2 separate regions of the Homo sapiens genome follow, and region 1 is linked to region 2. Evidence: fine-mapped expression QTL. A gene starts in region 2. The other region holds a variant in brackets. All regions are shown on one strand. Distances are between the middles of the regions. Region 1 overlaps ZNF791 (zinc finger protein 791). Region 2 holds the start of MAN2B1 (mannosidase alpha class 2B member 1).

What was found.
Region 1: its variant is fine-mapped to the expression of MAN2B1 in blood mononuclear cells (TOPMed, PIP 0.95).

What each region holds. Positions count from the first base shown.
Region 1 is chr19:12,628,459-12,636,785 of GRCh38, forward strand. ZNF791 (zinc finger protein 791) reads left to right here. Exons shown (of 4, transcript NM_153358.3): 4 at 1-5,376. The coding sequence ends at 802. LOC105372279 (a long non-coding RNA gene) reads right to left here. Exons shown (of 4, transcript XR_007067142.1): 4 at 4,681-6,030. Among named protein-coding and RNA genes, the nearest start is that of ZNF791, 22 kb to the left of the region's middle. The variant G/A (reference allele first, on the strand shown) is at 4,860.
Region 2 is chr19:12,662,963-12,671,289 of GRCh38, forward strand. It overlaps MAN2B1 (mannosidase alpha class 2B member 1), which reads right to left and starts at 3,780. Exons shown (of 24, transcript NM_000528.4): 1 at 3,581-3,780; 2 at 2,741-2,843; 3 at 2,390-2,563; 4 at 1,830-2,023; 5 at 741-873; 6 at 355-500. The coding sequence starts at 3,739. It overlaps WDR83 (WD repeat domain 83), which reads left to right and starts at 3,845. Exons shown (of 11, transcript NM_001099737.3): 1 at 3,845-4,030; 2 at 5,546-5,665; 3 at 6,793-6,931; 4 at 7,015-7,135; 5 at 7,218-7,323; 6 at 7,601-7,649; 7 at 7,733-7,859. The coding sequence starts at 6,829. It overlaps WDR83OS (WD repeat domain 83 opposite strand), which reads right to left and starts at 6,453. Exons shown (of 4, transcript NM_016145.4): 1 at 6,392-6,453; 2 at 6,166-6,271; 3 at 5,558-5,655; 4 at 5,111-5,463. The coding sequence starts at 6,441. The coding sequence ends at 5,397. RefSeq lists enhancers at 1,450-2,398, 2,223-2,272, 2,399-3,346, 2,413-2,462, 3,003-3,052 and 5 more and a silencer at 3,643-3,922.

The DNA.
Region 1 (8,327 bases), 35 kb before region 2:
ATGTTCCACCTCCATTCAAATTCATGAAAGAATTCATACTGGAGAGAAGCCCTATAAATGTAAAGAATGTGGGAAATCTTTCAGTGCACGCCCAGCCTTTCGAGTACACGTGAGAGTGCATACTGGAGAGAAACCCTATAAGTGTAAAGAATGTGGGAAAGCCTTTAGTAGAATCAGTTACTTTCGAATACATGAAAGGACTCACACTGGAGAGAAACCCTACGAATGTAAAAAATGTGGGAAAACTTTCAATTATCCTCTAGATTTGAAAATCCACAAGAGAAATCACACTGGAGAAAAACCCTATGAGTGTAAGGAATGTGCAAAAACCTTCATTTCTCTTGAGAACTTTCGAAGACACATGATCACCCACACTGGAGACGGACCTTATAAATGTAGGGACTGTGGGAAGGTGTTCATTTTTCCTAGTGCGTTACGAACACATGAAAGAACTCACACTGGAGAGAAACCCTATGAATGTAAACAATGTGGAAAAGCCTTTAGTTGTTCTAGTTACATTCGGATACATAAAAGAACTCACACTGGGGAGAAACCTTATGAATGTAAGGAATGCGGGAAGGCCTTTATTTATCCCACAAGCTTTCAAGGACACATGAGAATGCATACTGGAGAGAAACCCTATAAATGTAAAGAATGTGGGAAGGCCTTTAGTCTTCACAGTTCCTTTCAAAGACATACAAGAATTCACAATTATGAGAAACCTCTTGAATGTAAGCAATGTGGAAAAGCCTTCAGTGTGTCCACATCCTTAAAAAAACATATGAGAATGCACAATCGATAGAAACTCTATAAATGTGAGAAATAGGAGAAAGTTTTCAATTCTAACAGATGCTTTCAAAGTTGTGAAAATTCCCACTGAAGAGAGAAATCCTGTCAATGTAAGTAATATAGAAAGCGAGATACAAGATGATTCATGTATAGTCAGGTACCACATAATCATGTTTCAGTCAGCAATGGACCATATAGGTTGGTAGCCCCATAAGATTATATAACACCTAAAACATTTCTATCAACCGCAATTTAGTAGCAGTAGTAACACCATAGTGCAGCACATTATTTAAGTGTTTATGGTGCTGGTGTAAACGTGCTGCACTTTCAGTTGTATAAAAGTACAAGACAGCGGCCGGGGACGGTGGCTCACGCCTGTAATCCCAGCACTTTGGGAGGCCAAGGCGGGCGGATCACGAGGCCAGGAGATCAAGACCATCCTGGCTAACACGGTAAAACCCCATCTCTACTAAAAATACAAACAATTAGCCGGGCGTGGTGGTGGGCGCCTGTAGTCCCAGCTACTTGGGAGGCTGAGGCAGGAGAATGGCATAAACCCAGGAGGCCGAGCTGACAGTGAGCTGAGATCCGGCCAACAGAGCGAGACTCTGTCTCAAAAAAAAAAAAAAAAAAAAAGTACAACACAGCTGGGCATGGTCACACCTGTGATCCCAACACTGGGAGACTAAGGCAGTAGGATTGCTTGATGCCAGGACTACTCTGGTCAACCTAGTGAGACCCTGTCTCTACAAAAAATAAAAACATTTTCTAAGTGTGGTAGCACACCCTGTAGTCCCATCTACATGGGAGGCTGAGGCAGGAGGATTGCCTGAGCCCAGGAGTTCAAGGCTACAGTGAACCAAGATCACGTGATGGCAGTCCAGCATGGGTGACAGTGAGACTGTATCAAAAAAAAAAAAAAAAAATTGGCTGGGCACAGTGGCTCATACCTGTAATCCCAGCACTTTGGGAGGCTGAGGTGGGAGAATCAGTTGAGGTCAGGAGTTCAAGACCAGCCTGGTCAACATGATGAAACCCTGTCTCCATTAGAAATACGAAAATTAGCTGGGCGTTCTGGTGTGCCTGTAGTCCCAGCTACTTGGGAGGCCAAAGCAGGAGAATCGCTTGAACCCGGGAGGTGGAGATTGCAGTGAGCTGAGATCTACCACTACACTCCAGCCTGGGTGACAGAGCGAGACTCCGTCTCGAAAAAAAAAAAATTACAGCACAGATGTGCAATATATACTTGATAATAAATGGCTAAGTTACTGGTTTATATATTTACAATCCTGTTTTAGAATGTATTCCTGTGTTTTTTTAACAGTAAGACAGTCTCAGGCAGGTCCTTAAGGAGATATTCCCGGAAAAACTTTGTTATGATAGGCGATGACGGCTCCATGTGCAGGACTGCCCCTGAACGTATTCTGGCGGGACAAAACATGGAGGCAGAAGACAATGATATTGATGATCCTCACCCCGTGTAGTCCTACACTAATGTGTGTTTGTGTCTTAGTTAGTCTTTAACAAAAATAGTTTAAAAAAATTTAATAGAAAAAGCTTATAGAATATGGACATAAAATATTTTTGTACAGCTGTACAATGTGTTTTAAGCTAAATTATTACAAAGTTTTTAAAAATAAGTTTATAAAGAAAATAATGTACAGTAAGTTAAGGTTTATTCATTATTGAGGAAAAAATGTTTTTATGAATGTAGTGTAGTCCAAGTGTACAGTGTTTATAAATTCTCCATTAGTGTACAGTAACATCCTGGGCCTTCGCATTCACTCACCACTCAACTGACTCACCCAGAGCAACTTCTAGTCCTGCAAGCTATGTTCATGGAGTGTCCTATGCAGGTGCATCCTTTTTTATCTTTTATACTGCATGTTTACTCTGTGTATTTTCTGTGTTTAGACTCATAAATACTTAACATTTTGTTACAATTTCCTACAGTGTTCAGTACAACAACATGTTGTATGGTTTATAGCCTAGTAGCAATAGACTGTACCATATAGTCTAGATGTGTTGTAGCTATACCATCTAGATTTGTGTAAGTTCACTTTGTGATGTTTGTACCATGAGGAAATCACCTACAACACGTTTCTCAGAACATATACCCATGATTAAGCAATCTCTGCCTGTAAAATGCTCCAGAAAATTCACACCATGATATAAATTCATCACACACGATATAAAAGTTAAGGCAAGGCATGGTGGCTCATGCCTGTAATCCCAGCACTTTGGGAGGCCAAGGCAGGCAGATCACCTGAGGTCAGGAGTTCGAGACCAGCCTGGCCAAGACGGTGAAACCCCATCTCTACTAAAAATACAAAAATTACCTGAGCGTGGTGGCATGCACCTGTAATTCCAGCTACTTGGGAGGCTGAAGCAGGAGAATCATTTGAACCTGGGAGGTGGAGGCTGCAGTGAGCTGAGATTGTGCCACTACACTCCAGCCTGGGCAACAGAGCAAGACTCCATCCCACACACCAAAAAAAAGTTAAAAATTTTTTATCACTGGCTCATTCTTCAAGTACATCTCTGGACTATGAATTGTAACTTAACTACTTTTCCAAGAAGTCTTGGAAGTGAGATAATTCTGTAAGTACTCTTTAAGCAGTGGTCAAAAGTTTAAAAGGTTGTGTTTTCTCATTAAATCAGTTAGTAAAACTTTTCTCTTTCTCTTGATGTCTTGATTCATGAGTAAACTGAAGTGTATTTTTTTTTTTTCGAGACGGAGTCTTGCTCTGTTGCCCAGGCTGGAGTTCAGCGGTGTGATCTCGGCTCACTGCAAGCTCCGCCTCCCGGGTCCACGCCATTCTCCTGCCTCAGCCTCCCCAGTAGCTGGGACTGCAGGCGCCCGCCACCATGCCCAGCTAATTTTTTTTGTATTTTTAGTAGAGATGGGGTTTCACCGTGTTAAGCCAGGATGGTCTCAATCTCCTGACCTCGTGATTCGACCGCCTCAGCCTCCCAAAGTGCTGGGATTACAAGCTTGAGCCACCGCACCCGGCCTGAAGTGTATTTTTTTTTTCTTTTAAAGACCAGTGTTAGTAGAAGTGTATTTTTAATATACAATTAGTTTTAATTTGTGTATAGTTTTTCAGTTGTTCTCTGAATAAAGAGATTGTTGAATACTGACACACTGTAACTAGGATTTTTCCTACTGGCCTCATGTGGAAGGTGGTGCATATATTACCCATTATATATTTATTTCACCTTTTCCGAAAAACTGCTTTTTAAATTTCTTGGCCAGACACGGTGGCTCACTCCTTTGTAATTCCAGCACTTTGGGAAACCAAGGCAAGCAGATCACTTGAGGTCAGGAGTTCGAGACCAACCTGGCCAACATGGTGAAATCCCATCTCTACTAAAAATACAAAAATTAGCTGGGCATGTTGGAGGGCACCTGTAATCTCAGCTACTTGGGAGGCTGAGGCAGGAGAAATGCTTGAACCTGGAAGTCAGAGGTTGCAGTGAGCCAAGATCACACCACTGCACTCCAGCCTGGACAACAGAACGAGACTCCATATCAAAAAAATTAAATTAAAATATAATAAATTTCTTGCCGGGCGCAGTGGCTCACACCTGTAATCCCAGCACTTTGGGAGGCCGAGGTGGGCGGATCACGAAGTCAGGAGATTGAGACCATCCTGGCTAATACAGTGAAACCCCGTCTCTACTATAAATACAAAAAATTAGCTGGGCATGGTGGCGGGCGTCTGTAGTCCCAGCTACTCAGGAGTCTGAGGCAGGAGAATGGTGTGAACCCGGGAGGCGGAGCTTGCAGTGAGCCGAGATCGTGCCACTGCAATCCAGCCTGGGCAGCAGAACGAGACTCCATCTCAAATAAATAAATAAATAAAATGAATTTCAGCTAGAAGAGCCTTATTCCATTTTCCTTTTTATTAAACATCTGGCATAAGTTGGTAAGTATGTGAAGTTTATCATATATTCTTATGCGAATTATTATTTTCGCCTTTTTTTTATAATTCTGTCTGGGATTTGAATAGTAGAGTTTGAATTCAGGAAGGACACCTGTGATAGGACAATAAAATCTAGAGCTGGAC[G/A]TGGCCCTCCTGCTACCTGTCGACACAGGTAAATTTCCTAGAATCTGTTCCCTTTATAGATCCATGTTGAAATTCACTTATAGCCTCACTTGCATGAGATTTGCCAGGCAGAAGTGAAGAAGACATTAGTCAGGTATTGGAACCCCACCATACAGGGAGACAGCCTGCTTCCTGCTCATTTTCCTGGTTATTTTCTCTGCCAATCAAAAGTATCCTGAAAACACCCTGAGCTGCTTGACTTCCATTCTCAAAGAGATGTGTTGGTTTCCACAGTTGTCTCCACAAGCTCCGCATCAAAGATCCACGTACAGTTTGGATTTTCCTTCTAGCCTTCATGTGTGGCCCAAGCATCTATTTCAGACTGTCATGGTTGGCATTGTTCTCTGAGGTTCTGTCTTCCCTTTGTGTTTCTATGAGCTTTAATTTGTATGGTTCTTGTTCTGTTAATGCCACTAGGGACTATGTATTCCTGATTCCACCATGACAGCTACAGTAAAACAGTAAAAAAAAAAAAAAACAACTATATGGGAGTTTGTTCTCTTACTGCATTATACAGTGACTACTCTCCCCCATCCTTCCATTTGAGAATAATCACCTTCCTCATATCAGACAAATTGTGGGTGTTTCCAACTATTCCTGAATATTCTCCATCGGTTTATTTTCATTTATGTTTGGTTGTATGCAACTAAAATAATGCATTTTTTATTTATTTGAAGCAAAAGCTTCTTAGATGTTTCTTAGAAATATTTTGTTAACTGTTTCCAAACAACATGTATACTATCAAATATTATCATCATCTGGGTGCAGTGGCTCATGGCTGTAATCCCAACAATTTGGGAGGCTGAGGCAGGATTGCTTGAGGCCTGAAGTTGGAGACCAGCCTGGGCAACATAGTAAGACCCCATCTCTATTAGTTCAAAAACAAATAATTGTCTTCCCCGTTTCCTGAAAGGCTATATTAAAATATCCCATTACAGTTATGAATATTCAGATCAACTTTGTCATTTTGTCAAGATACATTCTGACTCAATATTAGCATGTGCATAAATGTTCTGGTATTTTTCCCTTAGATGTTTTTTATTCTTATACTTACATTTTGTCATAAAACAAAATTCTCTTCAAAACAGTGGTATTTTCAGTGCCCTATTGCCAGCAATCACCACGGTCACACCTGTATTCAGAATTAATTATGGTAATACAGTAGTCAATTCTGATCCAAAGTTTTGCTTTCTGTGGTTTTAGTCACTCATGGTCAAACACAGTCCAAAAATACTTAGTGGAAAATTCCAGAAATAAATGTTTCATAGACTTATTTATTTATTTATTTATTTGAGACAGAGTCTCACTCTGTCGCCTAGGCTGGAGTGCAATGGCGCGATCTCAGCTCACTGAAACCTCTGCCTCCGAGGCTCAAGCAATTCTCCTGCCTCAGCCTCCCGAGTAGCTGGGATTACAGGCATGTGCCAACATGCCCAGCTAATTTTTGTATTTTTGGTAGAGATAGGGTTTCACCATGTTGGTCAGGCTGGTCTGGAACTCCTAGCCTCAGGTGATCCACCCACCTCAGCCTCCCAAAGTGCTGGGATTCCTCCCATCTTACACATGAAAAAACAGAGGCAGAGAGAGCACAGGGTCTTTCCCAAACTCATGTAAATCAGAATTATAGAGTCTCAAAGTTTTGAAGTTCTAGTGTGTTCCACCACCTGTCAAACTTTTTTTTTTTTTTTGAGATGAGGTCTTGCTCTATCACCCAGGCTAGATTGCAGCGGTGCGATCATAGTTCACTGTCACCTTGACTTCTGGGGAGTGATCCTCCTGCCTCAGCCTCCCAAGTAGTTGGGACTGCAGGTGCATGCTTCCATAAGCGGACTTAGAAAATTTGAATGAGGCCGTACTGGGTGCCTCATGCCTGTCATCTCAACACTTTAGGAGGCTGAGGTGGGAGGATGGTTTGTGCCCAGGAGTTCCACGTGGCAGTGAGCTGTGATTACACCACTGCACAGCAACCTGGGCGACAGTGAGGCTCAGTCGTGTTGAAAAAAGAAAAGACAGAGAGAGAAAGAAAAGAAAAAGAGAGAAAGAAAGAAAAAGAAAGGAAAGAGAAAGAAAGCAAAAGAAAGAAAAGCAGAGATATGAGAGAAGGAAGGAAGGAAGGGAAGGAGAAAAAAGGAAAAAAAAAAAGAACTGAGACCCCATCTCTACAAAAGTAAAAAATTAGCTGGGTGTGGTGGGGCACACCTGTGATTCCAGCTACTCCAGAGGCTGAGGTGGGAGGATGGCTTGAGCCCAAGAGTTCGAGCCTGCAGTGAGCCATGATCATGCCACTGCACTCAGACCTGGGTGACACAGTTCATGTCAGCCACCTTCCAAAACAGGCAAGAATGCTATGTGTGTCATAGCCTATAATTTGTACCACATTAAGGTTGCTTTGATCTAGGGCAGAACTTATGAGTCCTTTTTTTTTTTTTTTTTTTTTTTGAGAAGGAGTCTTGCTCTGCCACCCAGGCTGGAGTGCAGTGGCGCGATATTGGCTCACTGCAAGCTCCGCCTCCTGGGTTCACGCCATTCTCCCACCTCAGCCTCCTGAGTAGCTGGGACTATAGGCACCCGCCACCATGCCTGGCTAATTTTGTTTTTATATTTTTAGTAGAGATGGGGTTTCACCGTGTTAGTCAGGATGGTCCCGATCTCCTGACCTCGTGATCCGCCCGCCTCGGCCTCCCAAAGTGCTGAGATTACAGGCGTGAGCCACTGCACCCGGCCAAAGCACCATTCTCTAAAATCCCCACCAAGCCTTTGTCTCCTTGCAGTTAGCTCCTCTCTGGGTGTGCTGCCTGGTGGAACCCTGTAATGTATTTTCTTTCTTTCTTTCCTTTTTTTTTTTTTTTTTTTTTTTTTGAGACGGAGTCTCACTCTGTCGCCCAGGCTGAAGTGCAGTGGTGCGATACCGGCTCACTGCAACCTCCGCCCCCCGGGTTCAAGCGATTCTCCTGCCTCAGCCTCCCGAGTGGCTGGGATTACAGGCGCCCGCCACCGCGCCCGGCTAATTTTTATATTTTTAGTAGAGACGGGATTTCACCATGTTGGCCAGGCTGGTCTCAAATTCCTGACCTCAGGTGATCCACCTGCCTCAGCCTCCCAAAGTGCTGGGATTACAGACGTGAGCCACCGCGCCCGGCCAACCTTGTCTCTTAAAAGTAAAAACAAAATGAGAGATAAGAAGAAATATTTTTGGAAGGCGCACAGGGGAATAAAGCCACCAGGGCATTTTAATCATAAACTCCTTGTCCCATCAAGGCCATCCCTACCCTTTGCCCTCCCCTCCCCAAGACCTACCCTGCCCCGCCCCATCCTGGCCCCCTCCAGCCTTCATCCCCCTTTTTCCCCTCTTTCCCCACTTTGTCTCCTCTTCCCCACTTTATCACCTCTTGCCCCTGTGCGGCCCCGCCGAACTGGAAACGTTTCCAG
Region 2 (8,327 bases):
AATAAAAATGTTAAAAATAGAGGCCAGGTGCGGTGGCTCATGCCTGTAATCCCGGCACTTTGGGAGGCCGAGGCAAGCAGATCACTTGAGCTCAGGAGTTTGAGACCAGCCTGGACAACATGATGAGACCCCAGTGCAAAAATACAAAAATTAGCTGGATGTGCTTGTTTGAACCCAGGAGGCAGAGGTTGCAGTGAGCCGAGATCGCACCACTGCACTCCAGCCTGGGTGACAGAGTAAGACTGTCTCAAAAAAATTAAAAATAAGGAGAACGTGTTAGGGGATGCCTGTACCATGGAAAGAGCTCATTGTATTGTATATACCGGACTCGAAGGTTCTGGACACCAGGGTTACCTGGGCAGTGGCCACATTTAGGAAGTAATCGACCAGCTCCTTGGCGTTGTACTCGGGGCTGCGAGGGTCCTCCACCAGCGGCTGATCGACACACAGCACATCCCAGCACAGATTCCTTGGCGGGTTGTAACCATTGGGAAGCACACCTGCAGGTCACACCAAGTTCAAGGGGTGGCCCATCACCCAGACCTTCCCTGGTTTCAAAGCCGGCCATGTCCCACCCAGGATGGGCTTCAGAATTTGTGTCCCAATGCAAAAGGAAATGCAGGGCCTTTGTTCCCAGACTATAGGAATTCCAGGACAGTGACAACAGAGCAGATATCAAGCCCAGGGCCCTTCTGAGTGTGTGGCACCATGGCTGGCCCTGCCCTCACCAAGCCCCCTACCAGTGAAGAGGTCCGCGGTCGGGGGCTTCAGGCTGGTGCTGGCCCGCCACACCTGCTCCATCTCCAGCTTCTGCATCCGTACCCACTTATCTTGATAATCAAGGCGCCCAAAGAAGAAGCCGTCGAAGCCCATCTGGGGATGAGGGAGGAAAAGGCAGTGTGAATTAGTGCCCAGCCCTCTCACCACCAAACTCCCCTCTGCTTGGGAGGGGCAGGTCAGAGCACAGGTTAAAAAGCAGTGCTAGGTCGATGTGGTGGCTCTTGCCTATGATCCCAGCCTTCTGGGAGGCCAAAACAGGAGGATCACTTAAACCCAGGAGTTTTTGAGACCAGCCTGCACAACACGGGCAGACTGTCTACAAAAAATTTAAAAATTAGCCAGGCGTAGTGGTGCGCTCTTGTAGTCTCATCTACTAGGGGGGCTGAGACAGGAGAATCGCTTGAATCCGGGAGATTGAGGCTATAGTGAGTTAGGATTGCACCACTGCACTCCAGCCTGGATGACAGCAAGACCCTGTCTCAAAAAACAAAAACAAAAACACGTAGGGCTGAAACAGAGAGGCCTCCAGCTTATTTCCAAGCTTGGGGAAGTTTCAGAACTCACCACCTTGGGCTAGCAGGGAGAGGGCGGGTCCAACATCAGAACCCAGGTTCACCTCCCCAGCACTGTCAAAGCGCAGAGCAGGCCTGACTCCAGGAATGAGGTTCCCCCTTCCACAGCCTGAGGATGGATGGGGTCTGAGCACAGGTAATGAACCTGTTTTTAAGGCAGCCTAGGCATCCACTTGCCACCCGGTTTAGGGAGGAGCCAGGACCCGAGCTAGTGGGTGGGGCCAGAACACCAAGAGGGGCCTATTAGGGGAGAGGGCGGAGCCAGCCGGAGCTGGGTCAGCCTGGGCTGGGCATAGCCGGCTGAGGCCAGAGCTCAAAAGCCACTGGCTTTACGGCTCACTCAAGGGGCAGGGCTTCAACAGGCCTAGGCCTGGGCCTGGTCCTTGTGAGATTGCAGGGAGAGGGCGGGGTTTGACTGGGCGAGGGAGGAGCCAGAGTGAGTGAAGAAGTGGGCCCAAGAGAGGTCCCGGGTCGCACCTGCGCAAACAGCGAGGCCTGCTCCCGAGAGTGGCCGAAGGGGTCAATGTGCCAGGCCACACGGGGTCGCCCATCATTGCCAAATGTGTCCTCCAGAAAGCGCAGCCCAAGTGTCATCTGGTCCACGATGGCACCGTAGTGGGTGGCTGCCTCATCGTTCATCACCCAGCCACCATTGGCGAACTCCAGGCGCCCTGTGCCAGGACAGGCAAGGTCAGGGTCAGCGGTCAGAGCCAGGAGTGGGAGTAGGGTGGGTGATACTGGGAATGTGAAAGCCTGCCTGTGTACACATTTCTGGCGGAAGGACAAGAGGGGTCGCTCCCAGGCCATAGTTCCCAGATATGGGAAAGAGGCCCCCTGCATGGCAGGCTTCCCAGAGGATGCACAGCAGGTGGGGCTTTGTGGGATGTATAGGAGGTCTCCAAATGGAGAGTCCAGGCAGGCGGAGCGACACGCATGTTATACAGCTTGCACGTGGCATGACAAATCTCAGAAACCAGAGATGCAGAAGCAGAAGCTGGGCTGGGCTTCCTCTTTTCACTTCCTTGGGGTAGGCTCACCCTGGCGCACAAGGTCTCGCACGACTTCCTGTGTGGCATTTGTCTGCTGGTGCCACCAACGGGAGAAGAAGGCAATCTCCACGTAAATGAAGCGACGGGTGGGATCTGCCAGCAAGGCAGAGATGACCGAGTCCAGGATGTACTGCACACCGGCGTGCTGGATGTCATTCTTGACTGTGGATAACAGGGATAAGGCTCTCAGGGAACAGCAGAGCCAAGGGGGTTATTCCTAGACAGAGGAGCCCAAACCCTGGATATTAGGGTAGCACTGGCCCCACCCTAATGTCCAGGACCCAGAGGGATTACAGGGACCATGGGGATCCCAGGGACCAGTCCCCATCCTCTACTCACTTCCATAAAAGTACTGGTCCACGGTTTTGAGCCAGCCCACGTCATCATGTGTGTGAGGCAGCAGGTGCACGTTCAGCATGTTCGGCTGCACTGTGGGGCATGTCTGCACAGGGACCCCAAACACACATACCTTGTCAATAACCCCCGAGGTCGGGGGCTGCAGAGTAAGTCTTGATCTAGAGGTGAGTGACTCAGAGAGGCCTGATCTCGCCTATGTGCAGAGGAGGCCAGGCCCTCCCAGGCAGGACACACACATACATAGTTGTGCTCATAGATACAACTCCACTTTGCACAACCCCACAGGGCAGCTCTCATTCACACTCCGGGAAAATAATAATAGAAGTAGCTGATGTTTGTTCAGCATTTGCCGACAGCAGACGGCCACCGTGGGAGGTGGGGTGATGTTATCCCCAGTTTCCAGATGAAGGCACTGAGGCTTAGAGAGGATAGGTGACTTGCCCAACGTCACACACTCAGGAAGTGTAAGAGCTAGGCTGGAATTTCAGGCAGACTCCAGAGTCCCAGCTCTCAGCCAGCACCTCCCCCCACACATACACTGCTCACCCCCTGCCACCTCCTGCCCCTCCAATCCCACAGTTAAGTGCAGACAAAGTCTAGGCAAGCATCCCGGAGACACGGAGGCAGGTACAATCAGACACAGTCCTATACTCAGATGCGCACAGCCAGACCTCGCAATGACACAAAGCACGCACTCAGACCACACTGTCATATCATCAGCCATTCACTAGACACCCACAGGACAGACCCACCCACACCTCTAGACTGTATTCTGGGTTTCACTCTGCCTCCTGTACGTTTCAGCTCGGAGGCCCCACTCACCTCGTATCCCCCGGCCCGAGCACCGGCAGCCGCCAGCAACAAAAGGAAAAAGCAGAGAGGCGGGAGCGGTGGCCGCAGGGCGCGGGACATGGTCCAGGGGCCTGCTGAGTCCAGGCAGCCGCGAGCGCAGACCCCCGAAGCCCGCGCGTAGGCGCCCATGGCTCAGCAGCTTCCTCCTGGGGTTCCCCGGCCCTGGAAAGGCCGGGCAAACGCCCCGCCCCCAGACCCGGCCGGGCCAATCGGGGTGGGGGGCGGGGCCAGGGCGCGGTCTGGAGGCTCACGGGAGAGAGGCTGTAGCCCTGGGCAATCCCGGGGGTCGTTACAGGAAGGTAGGAAAATGCCACCCTCAGGGCACTGGTTGGGCTAAAGGTGACACTGGCGTCTCACGGGCTATGAAGACGGAATGCCTCTTAATGCCGGAATTCCAAGACGGAATGCCTCTTAATGCCGGTAGGAGCAGAAGTGCTTTTCCTAAGGGGGCCGGGTTTTCCTAGCCGGTGTAGTGTGTCCATGGGAATCCAGGGTGTCCGTCCCATGGACCTTCAGCGCTAGGGTCCTGGAAGGACCTAGCTTGCCTAAGAGGAGGATCTGATGAAGAGTCCTATACTGTGGGGATTGGGACGTTGGGTAAATACCCCTGGAGTACCAGGGATGGGATCCAGCCTGGTTGAGAAGGATCCCTGGGTGTTCCGGAGAGAAAAGAGGGTCTGACAAGTGGGGAAGGACCCCGAGTCTTTCATGCCTTTCCCAATTCCTACCAGTTCATTCTCTGATAAGAAAACAAAGCCCAGGGCAGGCGCAGTGGCTCAAGCCTGCAATCCCAGCACTTTGGGAGGGCCAGGCTGGTGAATCACTTGGGCCTGGGAGTTTGAGACCAGCCTGGGCAACATGGGTTGTTTTGTAGAGACGGGTTTGAAAACACAAAATTTGTAATTTTACACAAAATGTAAAAATACAAAAATTAGCTGGGCATGGTGGCACATGCCTGTAATCCCAGCTACTTGGGAGACTGAGGCAGGAGAATCACTTGAACCTGGGAGGCGGAGGTTGCAGTGAGCCGAGATCAAGATCATGCCATTGCCCTCCAGCCTGGGCAACAAGAGCAAAACTCTGTCTCAAAAAAAACAAGAATTAACTGGGCATGGTAGCACGCATTTGTGGTCCCAGTTACGTGGCAGGCTGAGGTGGGAGGATTGCTTGAGCCCAGGAGTTTGAGGCTGCAGTGAACATAGATTGTGCCACTGCACTCAGCCTGCATGACAGATCAAGACCATTTTCTTTCTTAAAAAGGAAAAAAAAAAAAGGAAACCAAAGCCTAGATTATCTAGGTCAGCAGGGCCATCTGGTGAGTTGCCAGAGGGCAGAAGTCACTGTCTTGTCCCTAGCACCTGACTTAAGACACAAGGTTTATGAAGTAAGCAAATGAACAGCCAGAAGCCTCCAGACTGGGGCCCCACACCAGGCCTATGGGGCTAGAGCCCTTCCCGCCAGGTAGGAGGAACACCCCACTGAACAGAAGAGGCTGACAGCCAGAGTGAAAAACTTTATTAACAACAGGTTTCAACGAGAAAGCAAATGAATACCCCTAGAAACATGGACAGCATCTCCCCCAGCAGCAGGCAGGGGAAGGGAGGCAGGAGGGGTAAGCCTAGGGTGTTCCCTAGGAAAGGGCCAGGTTCCCTCTATCCAGCTGGGGGCACCGAGACGGCCTCATTCAGGGAAGTCCAGGATGGCAGCTGAAGGCAGCAGGTTTAGCAGCCAAAGCCCAGGCCTAGTGGATAGACAGGGTCCAAAATGTGACCCTTCTAGGCTGGTATCACCATGGGGGCGTCATGGGCTGAGGATTCTGCAGATAGGACATCACCACGGCAGAGATGGACAGCCTGAGACAGGAGAGAGGTGTCAGTCTAGGATGGCCAGGCTGGGGTCCCCCCACCCCTTACTCAAGAGTCACTTGTTCTGTAGGGCAAGTCTCACATGAAGCTACTCATCATTTGCTTCGTGTCCTCCGAGCTCCGAGAGTTGGCAAAGCTGATGAAGGAGCAGTAGACAGCGACCCAAGCACACCACTTCAGCTAGGGAAAGGTAAGTGGGTGGGCAGGTTAGTGAAAGGCACAACAATGAGTCCCCGAAGCCACCTTTCCAGACACCAGATCATGCCCACTGATTCCATCTGATGCAGCTGGGACCTTGCCCCACCCGGAATTCCTCAGTCCCACCTGCTCATGGCATACTCTAGATACGTGGTTTCTAGTCCTACTGTCTGGCCTGCGTCTCTCAGGACCAAGAGAGACTCTGACATCCCACATGCTTAAGACCCTGCCCTTTTTCCACAACTCCTCTCCAAGTTGCTTCAAAGCCTGGCCCCACTCGCAGACCAATCTGCCACATCCCCAACCTGACTCGAATCCTTGACTTCACCAAAGACTGGGGCTTTCTCGGCCCAGCGTCATCGCAGCCCCACTCCCGGCCGATCTCAGGTCCCGCCCCATCAGCAATGACAAGACACCCCGCTTCATTCCAAACCCGCCCCCGGGCCTCGTTCTCAGGTCCAACTACACCCATAGAAGCTCAACCCCGCCCACCTTAAGCATGAGGCCGCACATGCTGAAGATCATGCCCAGCAGGTTCATGTAGTCCGGCGTCGGGTCGTCCAAGGCCGGGTTACATTCGCTCGGCGGGGGCTTGTACCTGCGACAGGCTCGAGGGTCAGGGGCGCTCAGGTCCTGCCCCCGGGATAGACAGGCGCTTCCCAGGGCCCCGATCCACACCCACAACCCGAACCCGTGCCCACGACGCTGGGGTCCTCACCTCAGCACTTTGTTCGGCCTCCGTGGGTCCGACATATTGTTAGTGGACATAGCGAGTCGAAGGCCAGATCACGCCTCTTCCGCTGCAGGAATCGCAGCTTCCGGCGTGCAAGCTGAGGGCGGATTTTAGAGTAACACCCGAGGCCCTCGCATTTCCGTTCCTCATGACAGAGGCTTGGACTCCCCTTACCCAGAGAACGGAGATTTAGGAGAAGCCAGAAGTCTTCCTTTCAAAGGGAAAATGGGGAAAAGAACCTGAAAGCGGGCTTCAATAGTTCCAACCCGATCACCGAAATGCCAAAATGATGAACCCGGAAGTGATAAACAGGAAGTAGGTCAGGAAGAACAATAATAAGGTTACACCCAAGCGTGGGTTTCTAAGGCGCGGAATTTTCCGTACAGACCGATTTAAGGCTGCAAGGAAGGAGTCCTGGGAGCATGGCTTTCCCTGAGCCAAAGCCGCGGCCTCCAGAGCTGCCGCAGAAACGGTTGAAGACGCTGGACTGCGGGCAGGGGGCAGTGCGAGCCGTACGATTTAATGGTGAGCGCCTTCGTCTTCATTCCGGGTCCTCCTCCCGCCTCCTGAGATCGACGGCCCAGTAACCCCCGCCTGGTGTTCCCCAGTGGATGGCAATTACTGCCTGACGTGCGGCAGTGACAAGACGCTGAAGCTGTGGAACCCGCTTCGGGGGACGCTGCTGCGGACGTACAGCGGCCACGGCTACGAGGTGCTGGATGCGGCCGGGTGAGCCGGGGACCAGGCTGGGATGGGAGCGCTGAGGCTGGGATCCGAGGTCGATGCTGATCCTCCTCCTCCTTTACTCCAGCTCCTTTGACAACAGTAGTCTCTGCTCCGGCGGCGGGGACAAGGCGGTGGTTCTGTGGGATGTGGCATCAGGGCAGGTCGTGCGCAAATTCCGGGGCCACGCAGGGGTGAGTGAAAGCCTGGAGACCCTCATTTGAGTGGAGGGGACCCGTATTAGCGCATAGGTGGTGACACGGCCACCCCCATTACACCGTAAGGATCCCTTCCCCAGATGACGATCCCCCACTCCGCATGCCAGGCTAGGCAGTCACCAACCCCTGTCCTTGCTGTTCCCCCAAAACCTTTCACCTCCCCTTCGCCCTTGCTTTAACCGACACTGGGAACCCTGCCTTTATCCCAGTCCTCCAAAGTCCAGCCTCCTCTGAGTGGCAATAACTTTCTCAGAAGGTGAACACGGTGCAGTTTAATGAAGAGGCCACAGTTATCCTGTCCGGTGAGTCTGGGGCCTAAGCACGGGGGCCCAGGGTGCTGCCCTCCCCCTCCAAACCTGACCTCACCATCATGCTGGCCTCACAGGCTCTATTGATTCCAGTATCCGCTGTTGGGATTGCCGCTCACGGAGGCCTGAGCCAGTGCAGACGCTGGATGAGGCCAGAGATGGCGTGTCCAGTGTGAAGGTGTCAGACCACGAGATCCTGGCAGGGTGAGTGGAGCCAGGACCTGGTCTCACCCCAGGTGCTACGGGGAATCATAGCTGCCCCCATGCTCAGATTAAAACCTACTCTCAGCTGGGCACAGTGGCACACAGCTGTAATCCCAGCTACTTGGGAGGCTGAAGTGGAAGGATCACTTGAGTCCAAGAGTTCGAGGCACCATTGCACTCCATGCTGGGTGAAAGACAGACTGTCTACAAAATAATAATAATCTGGCCGGGCACGGTGGCTCACACCTGTAATCCCAGCACTTTGGGAGGCCAAGGTGGGCAGATCACTTGAGGTCAGGAGGTTGAGATCAGCCTGGCCAACATGGTGAAACCCCGTCTCTACTAAAAATGCAAAAATTAGCCAGGTGTGGTGACGGGAGCCTGTAATCCCAGCCACTCGGGAGGCGGAGGCAGGAGAATCGCCTGAACCCGGGAGTTGGAGGTTGCAGTGAGCCGAGATTGTGCCAC